Regions from separate parts of the Homo sapiens genome. Here all the other regions are linked to region 3. The links come from fine-mapping of genetic effects on gene expression. A gene starts in region 3. Each other region holds a variant in brackets. All regions are shown on one strand. Distances are between the middles of the regions.

What was found. PIP is the estimated chance that this variant, and not a neighbour inherited with it, causes the effect.
Region 1: its variant is the best candidate, but not a certain one, in a credible set for the expression of GBE1 in whole blood (TOPMed, PIP 0.73).
Region 2: its variant is the best candidate, but not a certain one, in a credible set for the expression of GBE1 in whole blood (TOPMed, PIP 0.89).

The regions. Positions count from the first base shown.
Region 1 is chr3:81,800,577-81,808,765 of GRCh38, reverse strand. No RefSeq gene overlaps it. Among named protein-coding and RNA genes, the nearest start is that of GBE1, 43 kb to the right of the region's middle. The variant C/T (reference allele first, on the strand shown) is at 3,492.
Region 2 is chr3:81,908,842-81,917,030 of GRCh38, reverse strand. No RefSeq gene overlaps it. Among named protein-coding and RNA genes, the nearest start is that of LINC02008, 73 kb to the left of the region's middle. The variant A/G (reference allele first, on the strand shown) is at 4,451.
Region 3 is chr3:81,757,828-81,765,994 of GRCh38, reverse strand. GBE1 (1,4-alpha-glucan branching enzyme 1) reads left to right here and starts at 4,350. Exons shown (of 16, transcript NM_000158.4): 1 at 4,350-4,620. The coding sequence starts at 4,478. RefSeq lists silencers at 4,122-4,221, 4,722-4,801, 7,383-7,677 and enhancers at 3,877-4,485, 4,272-4,561, 4,902-5,071.

The sequences.
Region 1 (8,189 bases), 43 kb before region 3:
GTGCTGCAAGCTTTATATTTTAAAAACATATATAATTAATTACAAAATTAAATATTTGTGCTTAACTGGAGGATGGAGAGAAGTGGCTTATTATGATCCTGTAAAAAGAAAAACCAAAGTAACTATGATGTTCAAATATCCAAGAAAATAATACATGCTTAAAAAGCGAAGTATCTAGCTATAATTATTTTCTTTTCCATCCAAGAATTAACCAGCTAACTAAATATAGCTTTTACTAAATCAATTCTACATCATACATAAACTTTAATGTGAAAATCTTACCAAACAAAAATCTTCCACTTAGAACCTATTCAAAATATTGACAAAAGATTTTCTTTCTGAAACTGAGAAATTTGAATTAGAGATGCTATGTAACAATGAAACGTTAACTTAATGAGTCTATTATGCCATCGATAGACAAATATGTAGAAAATGTTTTTAATCTCATAGAAAGAAAATGGTCTTGGTATCCCTTATTTCTTCCCATCTTATTGTGAAATAATATTTTATGAGGCTAATTGTTCAACAACTGCTATCTTATCTGTGAAAGGAAATTGCTTTTTTAAAAAAGTAGGCCAAATAAAATAGGCCAACTTGTTTATGAACAAAGTATTTTAATCCACTCACTCATAGTTCTTGGCTTTTGACAAGAAGTCTCTGACATCTGAAATGGAAATATTCACTGTATAATTACACAACTTTAACATGTATATATATATATATTCATGCTAAAAATTTTAGATGAGCTTATTTGAATAGTGTAGGCCATCCATTAAAATTGAGAAACTTATTCAGTTGGATTTGTTATTCCTAAACATATCCTCATATGACATTGGAACTGTTTCCTGCCACGTATTGGCATATAGTTTTAAAGTTACAAAATTTTTTCTTCTGGCCACTAATTTAAACAAGTCTCCAGTAGAACAAAGGTAACTTATACTCTGCATCATGTTCACTAAAAACTCAATTATAAAGAGATTACAATGTACGGCTGATAAATGATGTAATTTGATAAGCAATTTTTAATGCTATGCTTTAAGATAACAAAGGAAAATTTATAAAAATGTTAGTTTGAGAAGTAGGAATTTTCAGATGAATTGAAGTTTTTCTATATAAAAACTATGTAGCCCAATCTTTTCATTTTGAACTTTCCTGTAGGCCTCAAAAGACAAAAAATGGTTTCCCAAGAGGACTATATTTTTAGTCATCAAAATGTTATCATCATTACTGAGACATTTATATTGGGACATGTAATTAACATTCAATGTAGTATAACAAATCCCATAGTCTTAATGCTTTATTCATTTATTTCTTACCATTATTTGGGTAACTATAGCTATCAAAATATTATAAAATAATATATGTAATAATAAATTCTAGCTACAATTATGACGGATAATAAGCAACCACTAACATATCAATGGCTTACAAAAACAAACATTATTGTTTTTCCATTTATAAATATGTAGGGTGGCTGCAGATCCTCTAATTTCAGCTGGGCTTACCAGGCAGGACTCGGCTAGGCTCGACTAAACTCCAGGCCTGGGACTGGGTTCAAACCTGTTCCACCTGTCTTCATCACTCTGGGACTAGAGGCTACTCAAGCATATTTTTCTCACGGAGCAGAAACACAAGAACTCAAGCCTAACCACATTGGCACATTGAAACTCCTGCTCATTCTCTGGCCATTCACATTGGTCACATGGCCAAGCCCAACATCAATAAAGTGCGGAAATATATTTCATCTACCCTAGTAAGAAGGAGATAATACCAAATCACTTTGCAAAAGGGTGTGCAATTCTAGAACAAGAAAAGAATGAAGAATTGGGGACAATAATATTCTACAATATTTTTTGCAATACATCATAGTAGACATTTATTACTTTTAATTTCATAAATATACTTGCACACTTTGAGGAATAAGCTCATGATAATTAAGGTAAAATAATCTACTTGTAATAATAATTTAAAGTTGAAAATTTAGCCAGAATTTATGCCAGTTTATATTATGCCAGTTTAGGTTAAACATACATTTAAAAATTAATTGGATTCTTAACATATGAGTGCATTTAAATTATATCTCCCAGAACAAACCAAATGAATATGATAACATCATTTGAAAAATTATTTAATGACGGCACTGTTTGAATAGTGTACCTTTTCCTCTTGATGATTGGAAATAACATTTTTCCTAGCATAACTTTAGGGCAAAGAGCAGACAGTAATAGAAATCTAACATTTTTCTTACATGTTAACAAAAAATATTTTCTAACATGATTATATGATGTTCTACCAGAAAATTGTGTTACATAGTAGATCTAATGTCAATAGAAACTCAAATACGCTGGAATGTAAAGTCTATAACTATTTCAGCACCCTCACCAAGTGTGGCTACTTCTCTGAGCACCCACCTCCAGGGCTAACTGAGAACTATAAATAATCCATTTGATTCTTGACATTACTGCCCAGAGTGGTGAGAAATGAAAAGGCTGTGACATGTTTTTTTATTCTGATTTTGTCTTTGTTTTTGGTGCCTGTTTTTATTGCATGAATTTTTAAATGTTGAAATGTGTTATTTAAGAATCACCCTAAGTCATATTAAAGTATAATGGCTAAAAGAAAAACCAAAGATCTTTTTTAGTACTTCTCTACTTAAAAATCTTCAATGACTCCCAAGTTACCTACAGAAAGTAGTTTTCAGCCATTTAGCTTTCTAACTTTATCAACCCTATTCTCTTATCCTCCAGCCAAATTAAGCCATTCCCTGTTTCTAAAACTTGTCCAAGGCTAGCCCACCTTTTTAATTTTTTTCTGGCTGTTTCCTCTATAAGACACTTCCTTCCCAATTATCCACAGCCCTGCTGACCTCCAAACATTTACTTCTATTAAGAACTCAGAACTTTCCTCACAAACTTTTTCTCATAACCCCAAGACTATGAGTTCCCATTGTCTCACCCCATCCCTACTTCTGGTGGTACTTAAAATAGTCTACCTTTTGTGTAATTTGTCAATAGTCATTTATTAAGTACCTGCTGTGTGTCAGGAGATTGTTCTTGCTCTTTATAAGCTCAGTCTATTTTGCATGTTTGCTCTATTGTAACAAAGCATAAGCTCCCTGAGATCAGACTGTCTTGTTCATTTTTCTCTTCTCTGTGAGGGGCTAGCATATTCACTTACACACAGTAGGAGCTCAATAAATATTTACATGAAGAAATAGTAATGTGGAGGAAAGTCTCAGTAATTTTTATTCATTTGGTCGATGACTTCTCACAAAATGATATAAAATATGACTTTAGACTTCAGCAAAAGCACCTGGATCATAGACACTCAATAAACTGTAGCAGGGTCATTAGAGGTAATTGGATCTATTTGAGCCAGAAAAAGACTGTGCTGTTTGCCTCGAGGCATTTAAAATTAAAGCTAGAACCTTATTTGTATGAAATAGCTTGAGTGTGGGTATGCATAACAGCTGCAACTTCTCAAGACTATTA[C/T]AGTTCTATAGTAAGAATTTTCAATATTCAAACAGTAAACAATAAACTGAAAAAAAGATATAGATACTCTAACCTGTAACACTTTATTTATATAATTAGACATCTCCAAATTAATCAACTAATTTTAGTTGCATAAAATAATAAAGCTGCTAAAATTTTGTATTTTTAATGTTTTTATCCTCTTTGATCTTTTTCTATCTTCCTTAAGTACAACTTTTATATGCCATTAATTGCTCAAAAACATAAAGTAGCCCATTATTTCTTTATAGGCATGAGAGTCTAAAGCTAGAATAGACTGGAAATCATTGAGTTTTATCTGCTAATTTTACTCAGAATCAACTGAGGCCCATAGAAGTCATTACTGAAGTCTCATAACCTATCAGAAATTAAACTGTGACTGGAATCCAGGTCTCCTGACATAATGTTCTTCCTGCTTCACCATCTTATACATTTTTAAACTCTTTGTTTTTCAAGATCTCTACGATGACACTTCATTATTAAAGTTACTTAAACTTACTTCCTAACTCTCCTCCCAAAACAAATCTTCACTCAGGATGACTACCTTCTATCATACCTACTCTTGTCATGAAAATTATTTCCTTAAATTCCTTCCACCCAAACTCAAAGACTGTCCTCCTTTGTGAAATAGACTCTGTTTTGCCAACTCACAATGGTATTTCCAGTTTTTTAAAAAAGTATTCTGTATTACATGTACAAAACTCTGATAGCTAAGGTGCTAGATGGAAAGACTGTTCTCAAGAAGTTTAAAATAGAGTTGGGGAGATTAAACATGTTCACATAAATTAGGCAAAAGATTACGAATGTTGCAAGATGGACACAATGGACAGTAGAATCACAAAGAAGAGAAAGATCAATTTTAGTTAAGGACATCAAGTGAGGCTTAATATGTAGGTGGTATCTGTATTTAAAGATGGTAAAAATTCTAGAAAGAAGGAAAGACAATCGAAGACAAAAACATTGCACAGAGGCAAGAGTGGGAAAGTGCAGATGGAAAGCAGCAAGTATCAAAATTGGCAGCGCATTAGAGTTTGTTAAGCAGTGTGGTAGACTTTGTCATAAAAAGTATTAATTTCCAAGAGAAGATGTTTGGGCTTCATTTTCTAAGAAATGTGAACTTGTTGAGAGTATTTGAGCAAGGCAATTTTCTGATCAGAGTTCCGCTTTGGAAGAATAAGCCAGATGGAGTCTATAGAATGAATGAAAAAGGACATAGCTCATGCCAAATAGACTAGTTGGGAAAGGAATGCTATAGTGGAAGGAAGAGTTAATGCGGGCCTGGGGTAGAGTTGGAAGTGGAAAATAAAATATGGGTTCAAATGTGCACCAAAACTAGAATAGAGTCAGTAGGAATTGATACCTGATTGGATATGGGGAACAGAGAGTGGAGAAACAGTTAAGAGGGGTAGCTATAAAAAAAGAAAGAAGAAACAGAAGGACAAGGAAGTATTTAAGGGAAAATTCTTACGATCTTTTTGAAGCATACTGAGTTCTAAATTAAATTCACAACATATGTACTATAATATGTACCACAAATCAACATGCATATTTATTTATTTATTTATTTTTGAGATAAGGTTTCACTCTGTCACCTATGCTGGAGTCCAGTGGCATGATCATGGCTCACTGCAGCCTTGACTTCCTGGGCTCAAGTGATCCTCCAGCCTCAGCCTCCTGAGTAGCTGGAACTACAGGCACATGCCACCATGCATGGCTATTTTTAAATTTTTTTAATTTTTAATTTTTGAGACAGAGTCTCACTCTGCTGCCCAGGCTGGAGTACAGAGTTAAGATCTTGGCTCACTGCAACCTCCACCTCCCAGGTTCAAGCGATTCTCATGCGTCAGCCTCCCGAGTAGCTGGGATTACAGGCATGTGCCACCATGCCTGGCTAATTTTTGTATTTTTAGGAGACAGGGTTTCACCATGTTGGCCAGGCTGGTGTCGAACTGCTGACCTCAAGTGATCCACCTACCTCATTCTCCAAAAGTGGTGGGATTACAGGCGTGAAGGACCACACCTGGCCATTTTTAATTTTTTTGTAGAGACAGGGTCTTGCTATGTTGCCCAAGCTGGACTCAAACTCCTGGCCTCAAGCAATTCCCCTGCCTCAGCCTCCCAAACTGCTGGAATCACAGGCATGAGCCACTGGGCCTGGCCTCAACATGTATATTTAGATATAGTAGCAATTTAATGCTTACTTACACGCTGACATACATTAATTCAACTATTTCCATCTTGACGCCTCAATGATACCAGATACTTCTGGAGGGAGGGAAAAAAAAGGAGTAGGGGAATGAGTTGGGATGTAGAAAACTCCTATTACATTCCACATTCAGGCACAGTACAATTGCTACTATTTCCGTTTTACAGATAAGGAAGCTAAAACTTAAAAATATCACATTACTGGAGATAATAACATTGTGTCCCCAGTCTTACTGACTTCTGAATTTATGAACTTTTTTTTTTACCTTCTATCAATGGGTAGAGACTTTTTTTTTTTTTTTTTACCTTCTATCAATGAGTAGAGGCTTTTTTTTTTTTTTAACCTTCCATCAATTGGTAGAGGCTCGGAGAAGCAGATTTTAGCTAAGTAGAAGGGAAAAAATAACTTTTAACAATTTCAGCTGTGAAATTCAGGAAAAGAACTGAGACAGGGAAGCTTTAATGTGCTTAAGAAGGTATGCAATCTGTAAGCAAAGAAAATCACAAAAGTTTTCATCCTGAATTATCTCAAGATAACAACTGATAGGTGACAATGATATGTAGAAGCAAACGTAAATACTACAGCTTTTTCTTCTTCTTCGTGCTGGTGTACAGTTTTTAAACAGCTGCTTTTTGCTTTTTTTCAGACTCAACTAGATTTTTTTTTCACAATTTTGTTTGAATTTCATGTATATATGTGGGAGCATCTGTTGTAGTTAAAACTATGTTTTTCTTAAATGCAAAAGCAATTATCAATTCAGGAATTAACTTCTAATGAAGATTTCAGAAAATAATTTCTTTGTCAAAGATTTCTACCTGTTTCTCCATGAATCTCTAATTTCTTTCTTTTTTTTGAGATGGAGATATCTTAATTTCATAGATTATTAGTGGAATGAATAAACGAAAATATGTTCTGTCAAGAACAAGAATGTGAAAAGTGAAGGTTTTTTTGACATTAGGAAACCAAGCTCCATTGTACTTGCATGCACCAATTCTCTCTGAGCTAGTTACGAAATATAATGTAAACTAACATTTCAACTTTAAAGCCAAAGTATAAATTCAGGTCTCATCTTTTTGCATAACTACATCCCATTTGTGAAGAATACTCTCTCACAAATAGGCAGACTAACCTGAGTACAAACGATCCAATGGTCCTGCTAAAATCTGGACAAAACAAAAAAAGGAAAATAACAAAATCCACAAAGAAATTCTACTATTGCCTTCTCGTTAAAGTTGTTTACTTGATTTTCCTTTCATCAGTGAAAGGGTGGGTGGGGTTTTATAAAAGAATTAATGTTCATTTAATTTTATTATTATGTATGGAAAAATATTATGCAAAGTGGGTATGATTTCCACATGGTGTTCATTAACTGTATGTAGATCAGGTCCAAATTGTGATAGCTTGAAATATAGAAACAACTTAGTACAATATACAAAGGGTATCCAGTGCAAAATGAAAGAAAGTATTTTGGTCAATAACCAAGTGCTTTTCAATAGCTAGCGCCCTTGCAAAAATCCACAACAAGATGGGAGGAAGTAGCAAGATTTGAAGGATTAAGAAATAAATTAGAGGGTTGGGCACAGTGGCTCACACTCTAAATCCCAGCACTTTGGGAGGCCGAGGCAGGTGGATCACCTGAGATCAGGAGTTCAAGACCAGCCTGGCCAACATGGTGAAACCCCATCTCTACTAAAAACATACAAAAATTAAGCGGGCATGATGGTGGACACCTGTAGTCCCAGCTACTCAGGAGGCTGAGCTACGAGAATCACTTTAACGTGGGAGGGGGAGATTGCAGTGAGCCGAGACCACCACTGCACTCCAGCCTGGGCAACAGAGTGAGACTCTGTCTCAAAAAAAAAAAAAAAAAAAAGAAAAAAAAAGAAAAAGAAAAGAAAAGAAATTAGAGATTCATGGAGAAACAGGTAGAAACCTTTGGCCAACATTCGGTCCAAGAATAGATCTTAAACTCCCTAAGAGTTCACCAGATTGTTTTCTGAGGAAACCTATGTCTAAAGTAAGACTTATTCACCTGGCTCCTGAAGTTTATCACCACAACAGCTCAGGCTGGGCAGATGGGTGATTGGGAATTCTGGATCTTACATCTTCATAGATCTCTCTTACCTTGCACCAGAGTTCATAGTACATAGGATCAAGGCCAAAGACCTTGAAGGACTGGATCTAATGTTGCCAGCTGGCTCTGGGAGGACATATAGAGGGCAGGACAGAAACTTACCATTTTCAGTAAGTGTCATGGTCTGCATCAGGAAAGACTGATATGTCTACATGTGAGATAAATGCTGTCCAACAGAATATCCCTATTTTTGAATGGGAGAAACTGAGGCTGACAGAGTCTAAGAAATCTTCCCAATGCAATCTTGCGTTCAGACTCCAGAGTTCATAATCTTTTCACTATATCAAGAAGTTGTGATATTCCCTAGGCAGGTCAAAGATTTTTTTAAGAAAATGTTTTC
Region 2 (8,189 bases), 150 kb before region 3:
AGAAATGACAGAAAATCATTAAGAAGAGAAGGCATTAAAAGGTCAGAAATAAATTGTTATCAAGCCCTGTTTGACCATTTTATCAGTCAGAATTTTTTCTTGGCTCTCAAGAATGCAGTAGCATTTTCTTATCTCTGGAGATGAGTATATTATCAGGGTTGTATGAACACACTGATATTCAGATTCTGAGAATGTTTTGTGTAAAAACCACTGTTTGAAAAAAAAAAAGAGATTCTCAAATAGTTTTTAAAAAATGTAATTGTCTTGCTCTCTCCGTCTGTCTGGAATGTTACTTAGTGTAAAGATGTTATAAAGTTTATCCTTGGAAGAGAAAACCAGTAATCTCTTCAGGTTTAGGCTTCAGTGTCATTCTTTTCTTTGTTTTTTCTGTTTTTGTTTTGTTTTGTTTTGTTTTGTTTTGTTTTTGAAATGGACTTTCACTCTTGTTGCCCAGGCAGAAGTGCAATGGCATGATCTCAGTTCACCATAACCTCTGCCTCCTAGGTTCAAGGGATTTTCCTGCCTCAGCCTCTCAAGTAGCTAGGATTATAAGCATGCGCCACCACGCCCGCCTAATTTTGTATTTTTAGTAGAGATGAGGTTTCTCCATGTTGGTCAGGCTGGTCTCGAACTCCCAACCTCAGGTCATCTGCCTGCCTCGGCCTCCCAAAGTGCTGGGATTACAAGCGTGAGCCACCGCACTCGCTGTGCAGTTCTTGATGAGATAGTTTAGCTCCAAGTCTGAGCCCCAAGAAGGCAAAGTTATTCTCTCTCTCTCTCTCTCTCACTCTCTATCTCCTTTCTCTCTCTCCCTCTATCCATTTAGCCAAGAATGGTGGTTTGCAATCCTAGTTGCAAAAGATCAAGAAAACCCATACGAATCTTTCAGAAACAAAATTGATCTTCAGCTAAATGAGCATGTTAGTAAACCAAAATTTGGATAATCTGTGTTTAAATTGTGAAAGTGGAAAATGATGGGTTAAGGGATTGAGTATAGGAGAGGAAAGAGCCTTAATCATTTTAGCAATTAGTATGTAATATCCTAAAATGATTCACTAATCACTCTGCAGCTGGTATGCTGAGAAAATACAGGGTACAAAAGCATTCCTCAAATGTCATAGTCCATTGGAATCCACACTTTGAAGAGAATGTAGAGCTGTTGACTTGCCCTCTGAAATTACATAACAGAAACCCTGATTAAACCTATGGCTTAGTTCATTTTGGATGATGTTATTATATTTTAATGAAAGCTACTCAGAGTTTGGTCATCTATAAACAGGACAGTACATTTGTCAAGTGGAAAGCTGATACTAAATCTTCAAGGACTTTCAAAGGCCGTTTAGTTCACAATCACAGAGGTCAGTGCAATATTACTTCTCCGGATCTACTAAGTCGAAATCTGTAAATGCCACTTAAATAAACAGTCCCATCTGCAAGTTTTTCATAATCACAGGTCTTAATACTCGAGCTATCATATCCACTTGCCACAAATAGAAATAAAAGAGAGTAGAAGGGAGAAAGAAATGAACCACCTGAAAATAACATTCAAGGATTACACTGGAGTTTTTGATTTATGTATCACAAAACATAATGTGCCGCTCAAAAGGTAAGAGCTTTTCTTTCAGTAGAAGCTAGTTATTTAACCCAACCACAGGTAGTTGATAATAGCAGTGACTTAAAGAGTTATATACCTCAAATTACCCCATGTTTTACCCTGCAAATGCCCACATGAGGATACTTATTTTGTTATATATTTGTATGGAAAGCTCACCACTAACTTCAATGCACTTGTAAACCTACCTGTCTGTCTGCCTTACCACAGTGTAATCAAAAAGAAAAATGTTGGTTGGGCAATAGTTATTTGGCTCTGATGTTGCCTTCCTTTAAATTTAGTAAGAAGGTCTTGGACCATTTCAGCCTGCTTCGTTATCAGAATTGGTATCCATTTACCTATGATTTGTTCTTGACAGCGATAAAATTCAGAGATATTGCTCTGGGTGTGTGGTAGGCTGACAGTTGTCAAGGCTGCTCCTACGGCCGTCAGAGGCTCCTTTTACACTACCCAACTGTGGATTGTAAAACCAATTCAAATTATCCAGAAGCCCGAAGGTTATAATGATGTTCATGTATAGAGAGCTTTTATTCAACAATTCAAAGTTCTGTGCAGGAAGTCATTATGATAAAAGCTTTCTTACCAAATTATGAAGTGTTGTATATGTGTACAGTTAAATTCGGAGAGAAAATATGTAAGTAATTAATCCATGGGAAGAAATACAGCGCTATTTTGATTATACCCTGATTTTTAACCCCTTGCAGACTACTATTGTTTTTCTTAAATTAGGATTTTTTTTAATGATTAACATGTGTGCTTACCCATACATTTTTTTGGGGGGTGGGGGTCATGCATTTCTAAGTAATTCTTGAATTAACATACTGTTATAGTTCAATTAACCTACAACTCATGCACAAGAGTTAATAGGCTCCTATAAATCTTCAACTAATTTATTCTTCCTGTCATCTGAATAAATATCATGAGTCATTTCTGGAGAAAGGCAGTGCTTTCTTTCTCCTTTCTTTTTCTATTTTGCCTGAGGTTGTGCTGCAGTGCCTGTGTGCCCCTGTCACTGGAAGGAAAGAGATATTTGGTCTCTTATAAATAAGAACACAAAGTCTTTCTCTGTATATTAGAATTTTTTTTAGCTAAATTGATTATTTTAGCCAGGCCAAGTTTAGTAAGGACCAGAATAGCACTAAGTTCATTGATCTTTAGTTCTTTAAAGAAGGAAGGAAGAGAATTCAGCAGTGAAGCAGGCAGTTCTTCATTCTATGCATAGAGATTGCAGGAATTGGAGGTGAAGAGGACGCAGCTGCATTTTCTTAACTTTTGAATGAAAAGCAATTATGCCAAGAGCCTTCATTTCAGATTGTCAGCATGGGCCTATGTCATACCCATCCTGACACTCCCAAACTGAAGATTTTAAAGGCCTCCTGCCTTTGTCATTGAGACACCTGTCACCAACTACACTGAATCAGCATCTCTAGATGCTGGGAAATACATATTCAACATGAATCTATGTAAGACACAACAGTAGGGAAGCTGGAATTCTTCAGAATCCTTAAAGAAAAAAAATGAAAGGAAAGTTTAAGCCTGAAAAATAGCTGAAGTCGTAAAGAAATTTTTCACCCTGTAAAACATACTTCTGGTTCCATTTTCATTTGTTTGTAATTGAAATCACTAAGCTCCAATGTCAAGATAACAATGTAAATTTTTGAAAATATTTTAAAAAATATATTGACTAAATATTATTGGAAGAAAGTATTGAGGAAAAATATGGGTTTATCCGTGGAAACTGTAGCCTATTTGGGCATATTATTACAGCAGGAAATATTTCTAAAGACTTTATGTTTTATTTCAAGATAGAATAATAATTGATTAGAATGAAATAATCTATTAGTCATATAGTCTATTCTTTAGGAAACAGGGTAAAATAAAAAGAAACTGATTCTTTAAAGTACTAGAAAAATTTTGGTACTCTAAATGTTAAATCTCATTTTCAAACACATTTATTATTCGTTCTTACCCTCTTCATCCTTGTCCTCCTGCTTAGGATCATATCTACGAGTCAATTGCAAAAGCAGTGCTCATTTCCCGCTTACTCGACTATATCAAGATATTCAATTTATGATTTCTGAATTCAAAAGAGAGACAACCCCCAGAACTCCAAGTGACACTTAGACGAACTCAGAGTTTTATAGTTCACCAGCTTAGATATCTTTCCAAAGAAAGGCTAATGATTTCTTTATTACCTTATTAGCTATTAGATGGCACAGTTACACAAATGTATGCAATGGTAAAAAATTAATAATTGTATATAACTGATGGAGTAACAAAATCAAAATGTATTATATAAGATGAGCCTTTACCTGAAGCACTCAATCAAATTCCTAATACATTAATACATATGATTTTATGCATTATTAAAATTAGAAATGTAGTAGTACATATAGTTTCTCTAATCATAGCCCATTTTATCTTGACAAATTATGACCAACCAAAATATTAAAAAATACATTTCTAGATTAAAAGGATACATAAGGATGCCATCCAAAGTGTGCATACTGTATTTTCAAACAAATTTTAATAACTCGACATCAAATGACAGATAAAATTACAGTATTAGATCAGGACTTCAGACTTTAGATAAATTCTAATGGAATACAGAGGAAATGGAATCTATTTATTTATACAGGCAAAACCAAGAGAGGAAAAATTAGATGTAAAAGAATTTTTGACAGCAAGTACTTGATAATCTATCTTAAGGTTAAAACTAATAATATTTTATCATGTGGAATTCAATTTTCATCCATTTTGTCCTGGATATAACAACAATCTATTTATTAACTGACTAAAACACCATATTGGCTCTCATTCATTCTACTTTTTCAACAG[A/G]ATCTATTTAATTGAAGATATTAACATGATTAATGTTCAGTCACTAACCTGTGAGATCATAGACCTGATACTCTCTGATATTAAACATTCAGCTTTGCATTTCTTTCTGATCAAGGCTTTGAAACTACAGCTTTCCAGCAAGTAGTGGAGTTAGTCAAATGGAATATTGTTTTTTCACTGGCCTATCTTATCCTAGTAAATAAGAGATAGTATGCATAGAACATTTGTGCATCCTACTTCTCAGGGCCACACCAAGGCCATCCCAAATGCTAGTATGGATGTCACTTACTGACCAACTCAAGTACTTATCAGACAATATATTGACTGAGAATTAATGGTTAAAACTTCAGTTCTCCCTTAATGTTAATGAAGAATTACCATGCTAGGTGTCAATGCAAAAAACAGCATAAGGCTTTCCAAAGAATCTTATGAGGCAGGCATTATAGCTCATTATCTCAGAAAATATACACAGTAAATACACAGCACTGAGATGATTAAAATCCAGGACAATTGGAAACCCTGTTTTTCCACAACACAGATCATCATGTTTGCTCAATTTTTAATTTCATCATTTTTATATTGAAACAATAATCTGCTCTTACATCTTGGAAAATTATCATAATATAAAATTATTCTTTAAAATACTTTGAAATTTTATTTTTAATACATGACAAGCAAAATAATGACCTCTTCCCCCACCCACCATCAAAGATGTCCAAGCTCTAATCCTTGAAACCTGTGAATATGTTGCTTTACATGGCAAAAGAAACCTTGCCTCTGCAGATGTAATTTAAGTTAGGAATATTGAGAGCAGAAGATTATCCAGTCGGGCCAAAGGCAGTCATAAGGGTCCCTACAAGAAGGAGGCAGGGATGTCAGAGTAGGAGACAGATTTGAAAATACTATACTGCTGACCTTAGAGATGGAGGAATCATACCATTAGCCGAAGAGTGTAAGAAGCCTCTAAAAACTGGAAAAGGCAAGGAAACAGATTCTTTCCTAGAGCCTCCAGAAGAAATACAGCTCTACTGACACTTTGACTTTAGCCCAGTAAGATCCCTTTGGGACTTCTGACTTCCAGAACTGTAGGATAACAAATTTGTGTTGTTTTAAGTCACTACATTTTTGGCATTTTGTTTTACAGCAGCAATAGAAAATACCTGTGGTATAGGGCTACTGACAGGATCTCCTTTCCTATGGTCTTGGCAGTAATGAAGCCACCGTAAGCTTATAAGCGTCATAATTGGCATCTACACTGACACTGAGGATATGGGGAGAATCTGAGTTATTAGTTTGGCTCTCCATGCAGCATTTGCTTGACTTTGCACTCCATTTTAAACCATGGAGGCCATTTTGTGTTTTATTATAATACCATTCCCAGAACATATTACGAATTGGAATTAACTGTGTCAGTTATTTAACAAAAGCTTCCGCTCTCTGTATCCACTTAGATGCAATTAATGAGCCAAAAGAGACCAATCATATTAGTTTTAACTGCTTGGCCTTAAGCTTACAGCAACTTCCTGCTTTCTTGCTTTGGAAAGGTCATCATAATTCTATTTTAAAATCCTAAAGATTACAAAACATTTAAAACACTTCCCTGAAAATTTTGTGAGCTCCCAAAACCCAGTCAGGTCAATAAAGAATTATCATTTAACATTTGTTAAGCATCCACAGCCTGGAAAGTATCATACCAGACAAAGAAAAGCAGACAAACACACTGAAGAAATTATGAGAACTTCTTTTGAAAAAAAATAACCCTCACCTATAGGTCCTGGGAGGTGATAATTCTGATTGACCAGAAGCAATGACTGAAACTTGATTACAAGCAACAAGCCATGATAAAAAAGCCACACTAATTTTTGTTCCTGGTTAAAATGTCAAGGTCTATGATTGGACTAGAGGAGTCAAAGATCTGAACTATTCTCTGATCATTTTGAGAGAAAGGTCAGTGTATGATGATATGTACTTCAGTAATAGGCTTGCAAATTTTGTGAAAATGATTTTTTCATCCTCCGTTCTTGTGGCTAATCTCTGAATTATTTTGGATATTGATGATGAACAAGGTTTTGTGCTACATGTTATAGGAGATACAATAATTAGTAAGGCCCCCATTTCAAGGATGTCGCCACCTAGTGGAAGAGAGAAAAATACATCCGTATGCACATGCTTCCCGGACGGTGGGAAGATCACATATTTCCCTCACCATGCTTAGCAGAAATTGTCTCATTAAAGATCCTTAATACATGACTAATTATGTAATTACAGCACAAGGTAGAATGAGGTGAAGATTAAGTTAGAGGTACAAACAAAATGCTGTATATTAAATGCTTCCCAATATTTGGAGAATGACTAGCTTATATAATTGCCAGTTGCTAAATAACAAAACTACGTTTGGAGTAATATAAATTGCCTAAGGTCAAAAACCTTTTATGTTGAAATAAAAGCAATTTTTTTTAATTAAATGAGCTTTTGGCTTGACTTTAAAGGAACTCCCATATAGATGTGGTGACAGGAATTTCAACCCCTTTCCTTTGCATCAGAGGAAAATCTGAATCCCAGGAATTAAGACTCATGCCATTCCCCATTCAACAGAGAATGCAACCATTAAAAGCTACTAAGGTCTCTGGGCTGATGCCAGACCCCAAGGGCTCCAGTGTACAATGCTGTCGACTCACTGGCAGCACTTAGCTTTACTAACAGAAGGAATGTTCTTTCCTCAATTTAGATTTAAATGATGCTACCTGTAAAATAGGAAAAACAGTTTAGATACGTAGGATGAACAAGTCTACAGATCTAATATACAACTTGAGGGCTATTGTTAATAACATTATACTGTATTTGGTATTCTTGCTAAATGAATAGATTTTAGCTGCTCTTGACACAAAAACAAAAAAAATTAGGTAACTATATGAGAAAATGGACATGTTAAATTGAGTCACTATAGCAGCCATTTTACTATCTATGGTATATGTATTCCATAACATCATATTGTATACCTTAAATATACACAATTACATTTATTATTTTAAAATGTTTGTATTTCTAAGATGAGCTTTCTTAGGAGTTTGTGTAACAGTGAAAACACCAGTGGGAGGTGGGGGGTGGGGGAAGGATCATAAAATTGAAGGATTCACTTTAACTTTCCTTCAGGGAACTGGAGCCTGGAGACTGCAAATTTGCAAACATATAGGATGACTTACCCAATGCTGGGAGCACCATTGAGACTGTGGGACTCAGGAAAGATACAGACTTTTTGTTTTGTTTTGCTTTGCTTTTTTTGTTTTGTTTTGTTTTGTTTTTTTGAGACGGAGTCTCACTCTGTTGCTCAGGCTGGAGTGCAGTGGCACGATCTTGGCTCACTGCAACCTCTGCCTCCTGGCTTCAAGTGATACTCATGCCTCAGCCGACTAGCTGGGACTACAGGCACACGCCACCATGCCTGGCTAATTTTTTGTATTTTAGTAGAGATGGGGTTTCACCATATTGGCCAGGTTGGTCTCGAACTCCTGACCTCAGGTGATCTGCCTGCCTTGGCCTCCCAAAATGCTGGGATTACAGGCGTGAGCCACTGTGCCCAGCCAGACACATTTAATAGCTCCACCTGTCAGGAAGGTCAGCATCTTTCAAGAGGCAGATGGGGCCAATTTCAGACAGGGAAACTTGAAGGGGTGGATGAAGTATATAAACAACAAAACAGGTCGGGAAAGGAGGAAGTAACCATGGGAGTGCCCCTCTT
Region 3 (8,167 bases):
GGGACAGTGCTAGACCCTGTCTCAAAAAAAAAAAAAGTTACTTCTTTTTTCTTTCTGCTCTCTGATTTTCTTTTTCATTGCTAATGATTTTCAACGAGGGGGATATGTAATTTTAAAAGGTATATTTATATAGTCTAGTTTATCTTTAGTTGGTATAAATCATTTGCCTTTTAAAAAGCATATTTAGTATTATTTTATCCTTCAGAATCTTTTTAAAAATAGCTTTGAGACATAATTCACATACCATACAATTCATCCATTTAAAGTGTACAATTAGTTTTTAGTATATCCACAGAGCCATGAAACCATAACCACAACTAATTTTAGAAAATGTGTACCAAGAAGAAATCGCATATCCACTTGCACTCACTCTTCGTTTCCCCTGCCCTCCAGCCCTAGGAAGCTAAAAATCTGCTTTCTTTCTCTGTAGATTTGCATATTCTGAACATTCCATATACATGGAATCATATAATATGTGGTCTTTTGTGAGTGGTTTCTTTCACTTGCTATGTTTTTAAGGTTCAACTGTGATGTAGCACATTATCAGTAACTCTTTGGCTTTGTAATGCAAACTATTGAAAAGCAAACATGTGACATGAGACTCAAATACCAAGAAAGAAAGGTTTCAAAATATTTATTGAGGATCTCCTATTTGCCACCGTTAGCTAGTAAACGCATATGGATCATTCTCTAATTGTTATCTTCATTCCTACATGATCTATTAGGCACCAGAATTACATTTCCAGCTGCCATATTGACTTGGGTATCCAGGAGCTGACACCTTGAACTTAGTTCTCCCTCTTTCAAGGCCTTCTTTATTTTTGCTAGACAGAATTCCCCCAGGCTCAGAAGTTCAATCTTTAATTCCCTTTTCACTTTCATATCCAATCAGTCACCAAATCTTATAAACTCTATTTCTCAAATATTTTCTCTGTTTTGGTGTGTCAAAAATGTTATGGGTTGAATTGTATTTCTCCACAAAAAGATACACTGAAGTCTTAACCTAACATTACCTCAGAATATGACCTTATTTGGAAATATAATAATTGCAGATATAATTAGTTAAGATGAGGTCATACTGAAATAGGGTGTGTCCTTCATTCAATAAGGCTGGTGACCTAATAAAAAGAACACTATGTGAAGAGACAGAGACACAGGAAAATGCCATGTCACAATGGAGGCAGAGATCCAAATGATGCAACTATAAGCCAAGAAATGCCAAAGATTGCTGGCCATCACCAGAAGCTAGGAGAGAGGCATGGAATAATTCTCCTTCAGAGCCCCCAGAAAGAACCAAACCTGTGGACACCTTGATTTTTAGCCCCTAGAACTAGGGTAAGGTGACAAATTTTTGTTGCTTAAATTACCTAGTGTGTGGTACTTAATCACTACAGCCCTAGGTAACTAATACAGACACTAAATGACTTCATAATAGTTTAGGCATTCATTATATCATGCATCCCAAATCTTTATTTCATCATTTTATCTGCTACCCCAGACCAAGCCATCATCATTTCATGCCTAGGCAATGTTAATCACCTCCTAATTGTCTCCCTTGTCTCCCACAAGAATGGCACCCCTATTGCCATTCTTGTATCCTTATAATTCATTTGCCACATAGAATATTTTAATAATTAAACCATATCATATCAGTGTTCTGCTGAAAACTCTCCAATAGCATCCCTTAAATGGACATTAAAGGGCCTATATGAACGAACAGCTGCCTAGCTCTTGCACCACAATTCCTGCCACTCCTCATTACACACCGGGTATGCTAGATTTTTTTTTTTTTTTAAAAGACCAATTCAATTCCTCCATTGCACGAACTCTGCCATTCTGGAATGCTCTTCCTCTCATGGCTCATTTCTTCTTGTCATCACACTTCAGCTTAAATGTCAGTTCTGAACGGCCTTTCTTGACGACCGGAACTAACACAGATATTTGCTCAGTTTTAATTCTCGACAATGCACTTACCACTATCTGACATTGTTTTGTATTATTTTATGTATTTCACTGGTAATTGTGTCTCCTCTCCCTCCTACCCCCAATAGAGTATGACAACTGGGACTTGTCTTATCATTTATCCACAGTACGTGGGAAAATGGCCGGCACATGGGACTTCAATAAATATGTGCTCAATGGTGAACCACCTAGGTAGGCAGATATGTACGCTAGGATCGTGCTCGTGGGGAGCTTAGGTTCTAAAGGGAAAGGTCAATAAATAGGAGAAAAACAAACACCTAGATTCTGTTAACTGTTGCATAGAAGAGATTGAAGTTATACAGAAGACACTGAGGAGTCTATAATCAGAAGTTTCTCAGGTATGAGGTGACATTTTTGCTGAGGCTGGAATGAAGGCTTGGAAAAAATTAAGCAAGTAGAGCTCAGCTCCCTGAAAATTTCCAACAGAGAGAACAGCAAGCAAATAATCTTAGAGGCTATTATACAACAAATTCACTGAGTTCCAGGAAAGTCAGTGTGACTAGAGCATAGTAAAACTGGAAAATGATGAGAAAAGTGGCTGGAAAGGTAGTCAGGGTCCAGATTATACAAGCCTTGTTAGAGAATGATAAGCTGTTTCTATTTTACCCTAAGTGAAATACTATGCTATTTAAGTTGCTAAATGACATCGTCTGATTTACTCAGTGTAGAGTCTCACCAAACTGTGTCCCCAACCACCAGCATCAGAATCACTTCTGAGCTTGTTAAAAATGCAATCTGAAGCACCACATCGGAACTCAATTAAGATCCCTAGGTGATTCATATGCACATTAAAGTGTGAGAAACACTGGTACAGAGAATGGAGTAGAGGTGAGAAAGAGTAGAAGAGGGGAAGTCAGTTAGAGAGCTACATTCTGGTCCAAGTGAAGGAAAACAGTGGCCTGCATAAGAGTGACAGCAGGAAGGATGAGAAGACGGATTCTAGGTCACGTTTTGCAGACAGTTTGTTTAGGTCTCCTAGCCAGCTAAATGGAAATCTCAGTAGACAGGCAGTGATACAAGCCTGGGTTTCTGAAAAAAGTTTAGGCTTGGAGATGTAGATCTGTGGGTCTGTTATTAATAGTTGTCCTGCTTCGGGTTTTTATTTTTTTTTAATTTTCTTCCTTTTTTAGTGCTTTATATTTTACAAATGTCTGCAGCAGTTTTTTGTCATCTTTATGGAAAACAAGGCACGTCTTAAAGTCGTTCAAGTCCTTCACTTTTTCACACTGAGGTCTGTCTTCATATCCACTTATCTTTCAAGTCTATGAAACCCCTTATAAAAACTTTCCTTTGAAATATTTTAAAATTCAAGGCCCACGGCTGATTAATACTGTTTCTCCTCCATAACCCCTAGGATCCTCCAGTTCTGGGTTTTAACAAGAAAAATATCCTCAATCCTCTCTAGTTTCTAGGTGTAAAGCAGCTTGGACCCTCCTGGGTTTGGTGGGTCCATCTCTCTTGGAGTCCAACTCTGTATTCCTAAAAAGCAATTATTGAAATAGAAGCTAGTCAGTTAATGGCAATAAAAGAAGGGAATTCCAAGTGGGAGCTTCCCAAGCCAAGAGGAAGAGAGGTTTCTTGCCTTATCACTGTAAGTGGCAGAGTGGAGTTCCAATTCAATGATATCATTTGTGTTATCAAAGGTAGTTTAATCGTTGAAAAGCTTGTTAACAATTATAAACACAGGCAAATGCCTTTTCCTTTTTGGCCTTACGGAGAATGAGAAAAGTTCTTCCCATGGCTAAAATTCTTAGCTGTTGGTAATGCAGAAAAGAGTACCAGAACAGCAGAATTCCAACGGTATTCCAGGATTCTGTGTCTTGGTTAATTTTAAATTCACGTGACCTGGCAAACTTAGGAGAGTCCTGGTTGTAAGAGGTATTAACATTTTCAGCAGTAGTACTCTAGCTACACTTGACTGTTCCCCTCTCTGTGAATTTACATGATATGTTTGAAATACTGCCCCTCAAAAGTCTCAGAACTTTGAGAAATACGGTCCTTTCCAAAAAAACCCCTTATGTCCAATTTGAAGGGGTCGCTGTCAGTGGGTGCTTAAGTGGGTAAAGAAAAGCCAAGAATATGTCAGGGTGAGGAAGGCCAAGGCTGAGCGAGGTCAGCTTGGGACCCACCTCCTAGAATGACCTCCGCCAGCAGGAAAAAACCGTTAAGGGGAGGAAAGGGCAGGTCCCTGCGGCCTCCAGGTGCCAGCCGCGTGAGTGGGCGGAGAGGCCTCGGTGCCTCCTACCCGCTCCGGACGTGCGTCCCGGCATCACCCCGGGATCCGCTCCTCCCCGCTGGCGGGGGGAGAAAGGGCAGGAGGCCTTCCGTCCCGGCTATAAAGGGCCCCGGACCGCCGCGGCTCGCCTCGGCTTGCCTCGACACGCCTAGGCGCCCTCCGGCTCCGCCCTAGCCGCCGCGTCCCAGCTAGAGCTCCAGCGCCCGCTCAGGCCCCACTCGACCTCTCGGGCCTCGGCTACTTGGACTGCGGCGGAATATGGCGGCTCCGATGACTCCCGCGGCTCGGCCCGAGGACTACGAGGCGGCGCTCAATGCCGCCCTGGCTGACGTGCCCGAACTGGCCAGACTCCTGGAGATCGACCCGTACTTGAAGCCCTACGCCGTGGACTTCCAGCGCAGGTACCGCCGGAATCCCACCACCCCCACTTAGACAGGCAGCCCGCCTCCCAGGAGCCGTCTCGGGACACGGGCCGCCCCTCGGCCCTCGCGCGCCAACCCCGCCCCAGGCGGGGAGGAACCTGAGTGGGCGGGGCTCGGGGTGACTCGGGTAACCGGGTTCTGTGGCTTCCGTAGTGGCAGGTTTGACAGCGCTGGTGCCCGGAGCGGGCGCTGAAGAAACTTCTTTCCTCATCCCCTTTCCCCTCTGTTCTAATCAGCGGTCTTGCGCCATAGGGTACGTGCTGTGGCTCCAACACTTATTCCCCAGAGTGCTGCTGGGGAGTGACTCACCGCCGCTGCAGGTTTTCTGACTTTGGCACCCACTAGCGTGGGCCTGTGGAGTAACGTGGGCATAACTCCTGGCACGTGTAATTACGCATTTAAAACTTTCTAGTTTATTTCATAGCAAATGTTGTGATTTTATATCTAAGAGGATTCCTTCAGGCAGACACTATATCCTTTTGTTTTTTCCTTGCTAATATTCCTCATTTAGGGGAAGATTACACCTACATTGATCAATTTTTTCTCCCCTTGGATCAACATTGAGAAGTTAAATGTACATCAACATTTGTCCGTGTGTGACTTTAACCATCTTGAAGAGGGAGAAAGGTCAGGAAAGCAACTTTTACAGGCCAATGTCGTTTTAGCTTGTCTTCTACCATTGTGTACCATACAACTTTAGTTACTGGGCTAATAATTCTATTCATAAGTTCCACTAAAAAGGTACAGGTCTTTTTCTGTTGTCGTTGTTGTTTGAAGTAAAAGAGCTATTATACAAGTTGTAATAGTTATACTTGTGAGGTTACCCCATTTTGATTTAATAGTTTCTCCCCTTTTAGGAGAGACACTGCAGAATGGAAACTATCCTGGCAACAGAATATACATGGCCAATTTTTCGAGTGATGGAAAACATCCAACTAGTTAACTGGCATGAAGGAGCGTTGAGAGTAATGAAAATGGGTTGATTTGGAGTTTGAAAAAAGCCCAGCAAATTGTTTGTGTCCTAGCATTTTCAGGTATTAAATGCATTCAAATCAGCAAGTGTTTATTGAGGAACTCCTATAAATAAAACACTGCTCTAGGGATTGTAAGGGATGTGAAGTTTCATTCTTGAGCTTGTATATAGTAGTGAATGAGGCCTCTGTAAAATAATCACCTTGAGCTGTCCCTCACTTAATCAGATGATTATGCTCTTATATAAACCATATGAGGAGCAGCCTTGTGAAATTGTTTTCAGAATTTACAGTATATGCTTTCAGAGAAACTTAGTGCATAATCGTCATAGGTTTAAGGTTGGATTTGATTTAGAAATAGTCAGAAAAAATTTAGAACAAAAGATAGTGATTAAAGGTAGTGGTTAGATTTTTTTTTTGATGTCCTTGTAACCATGACATTAATTTACCTGTGTGCTTTGTAAAAGGACACTTAAGATATTTATTAAAGAAGAGTTGTGGAAATGTTTTATCTACACCCCCTTCCTTTTTTTTTTAAATGACACAAACAGATTAACATTCTTTATTAAGTGTTTCTTTCATGTACTTTATTTCCAACTCCACTGGGATTGAAGCATTTATAATCTTCTTTCATGGTTTGCCAAAACTAATGAAGGGAACAAAGGCCAAGATAAAGAAGGGAAGAGAATCCAGTGTGCTTGGTGAAAAGTCTCGTCCAGTGGGCCCTCATGCCTCACTCTGACCCGGATTTTACTTTTGTCCTTGGTTCTGAGTAATGGCCATTTGCTAGCATACATGTTCCATTTAGGCATATCAAATAGTAATTTGGCATTTGTTAGTGGTAACTTCTATTGTTAACACTTGAAGAATAAAACATTTTTCCTTCATACAATCTGGTCTTAGTTCCTTGTCCAATTTTCCATTTATTTCTGATAATCCATTTGGACTGTGTGTCTTTGGCCTAACACAAATACATAACCAGTCAAACACTTAGGTGCAAAGTATGCTTACTAAGGAGTGAAGAAAATTTGAGGTACAAACAACAGTATATAATTAAGGTGATGAAGAAGGAAATTTCTCTTTGATGGACTGTCTCATCCTTCCCCAACAGATATCTTTTGATTTGAAATTTTTTGGATGTTCCCTTAGGATGTTTTGGATGTTCCTTCCCTTCTTTACCTTGGCCTTTTCCCCTTCTGTATTAGTCCGTTTTCATGCTGCTGATAAAGACATACCTGAGACTGGGCAATTTACAAAAGGAAGAGGTTTATTGGACTTACAGTTCCAAGTGGCTGAGGATGCCTCGCAATCATGGCAGAAGGTGAAAGTCATGTCTCACATGGTGGCAGACAAGAGAAGAGAGCTTGTGCAGGGAAACTCCCCTTTTTAAAACCATCAGGTCTCGTGAGACTTACTTACTATCAGGAGAACAGCGTGGGAAAGACCTGCCCCCATGATTCAGTTACCTCCCATCAGGTCCCTCCCACAACACGTGGGAATTCAAGATGAGATCTGAGTGGGGACACAACCAAACCATATCACCTTCATTAGTTGTTCTTTTCACCTTCTGTACCTGTGAGAATTTTGAATCAAGTGTAGAGGATTAATGAGTTACTCTGCTATAAAATAAAAATTAGTACATTATTAGCATGACTGACCACCTCCATGTTGTCTCATTGATGACCTCCCAAAATAGCATTTTCCACTTGATTTTTCTACCTTTTATTTAGTTATTTACTTGTTGTTACACTACAATTAGTTGTTATAATTCCAAAATCTTAGTGCTTTAAAACAACATTTAATTGTTCCCATATTACATGTCAGCATGAGTCAGCCAGAGGGCCCTCCTCATGGCAGTCACTCAAAAATCTAGGCTTATGAAGGATTTGTTTTGAAACATGCTTCTGTAGAGGTGGTCACAGTGCAAAGAGAAGCATGTTGAACTATGCACTATTTCTTACAGCTTTTGCCTAGCAGTGAGTCCATTCTGCTGATACGTTACATTGGCCAGTGCCCATCAGCTTGCCATGTGGGTGAAACAGAGAATTGGCATTTGTGAACATTGTCAAAACAACACAATTTAATAATACTACTTTATACCCTCTGTTTAATGTTTATAAAGTACTTTCAGATCCGGTATTTAATGTAATCCTCATAACAAAACCATGAGGTAGACAGACGGTGGGCATTTTTCCTGTTTTGCAGATGAAGAAACTAAGTGATGGGCTTGAGCATATATGGCATAAGTAAGTGCTGCAACTGTGATTAATCTTTCTTTACTGAAACTGTTCTCAACCAGTTCACAGACAACTTCATGATAATTTAGGGATCCCTCTTTTCTTTATCTCTAGCATTGTACATGTTGGACTATTTCTTGGCTCTTTGAAGCCATAATCTTGCTTTTCTTTCATTTTCTCAGCCTCTTTTTGACCATTTAATGTAAGAGATTTTCAAGGTTCTTCCCTGGGATCATTTATGTATTTCTATTGTATATTTTCTCCCTAGACATTCTCATCCATCCCATGGATTCCATCTATCTACTGAGGCTGCCCACA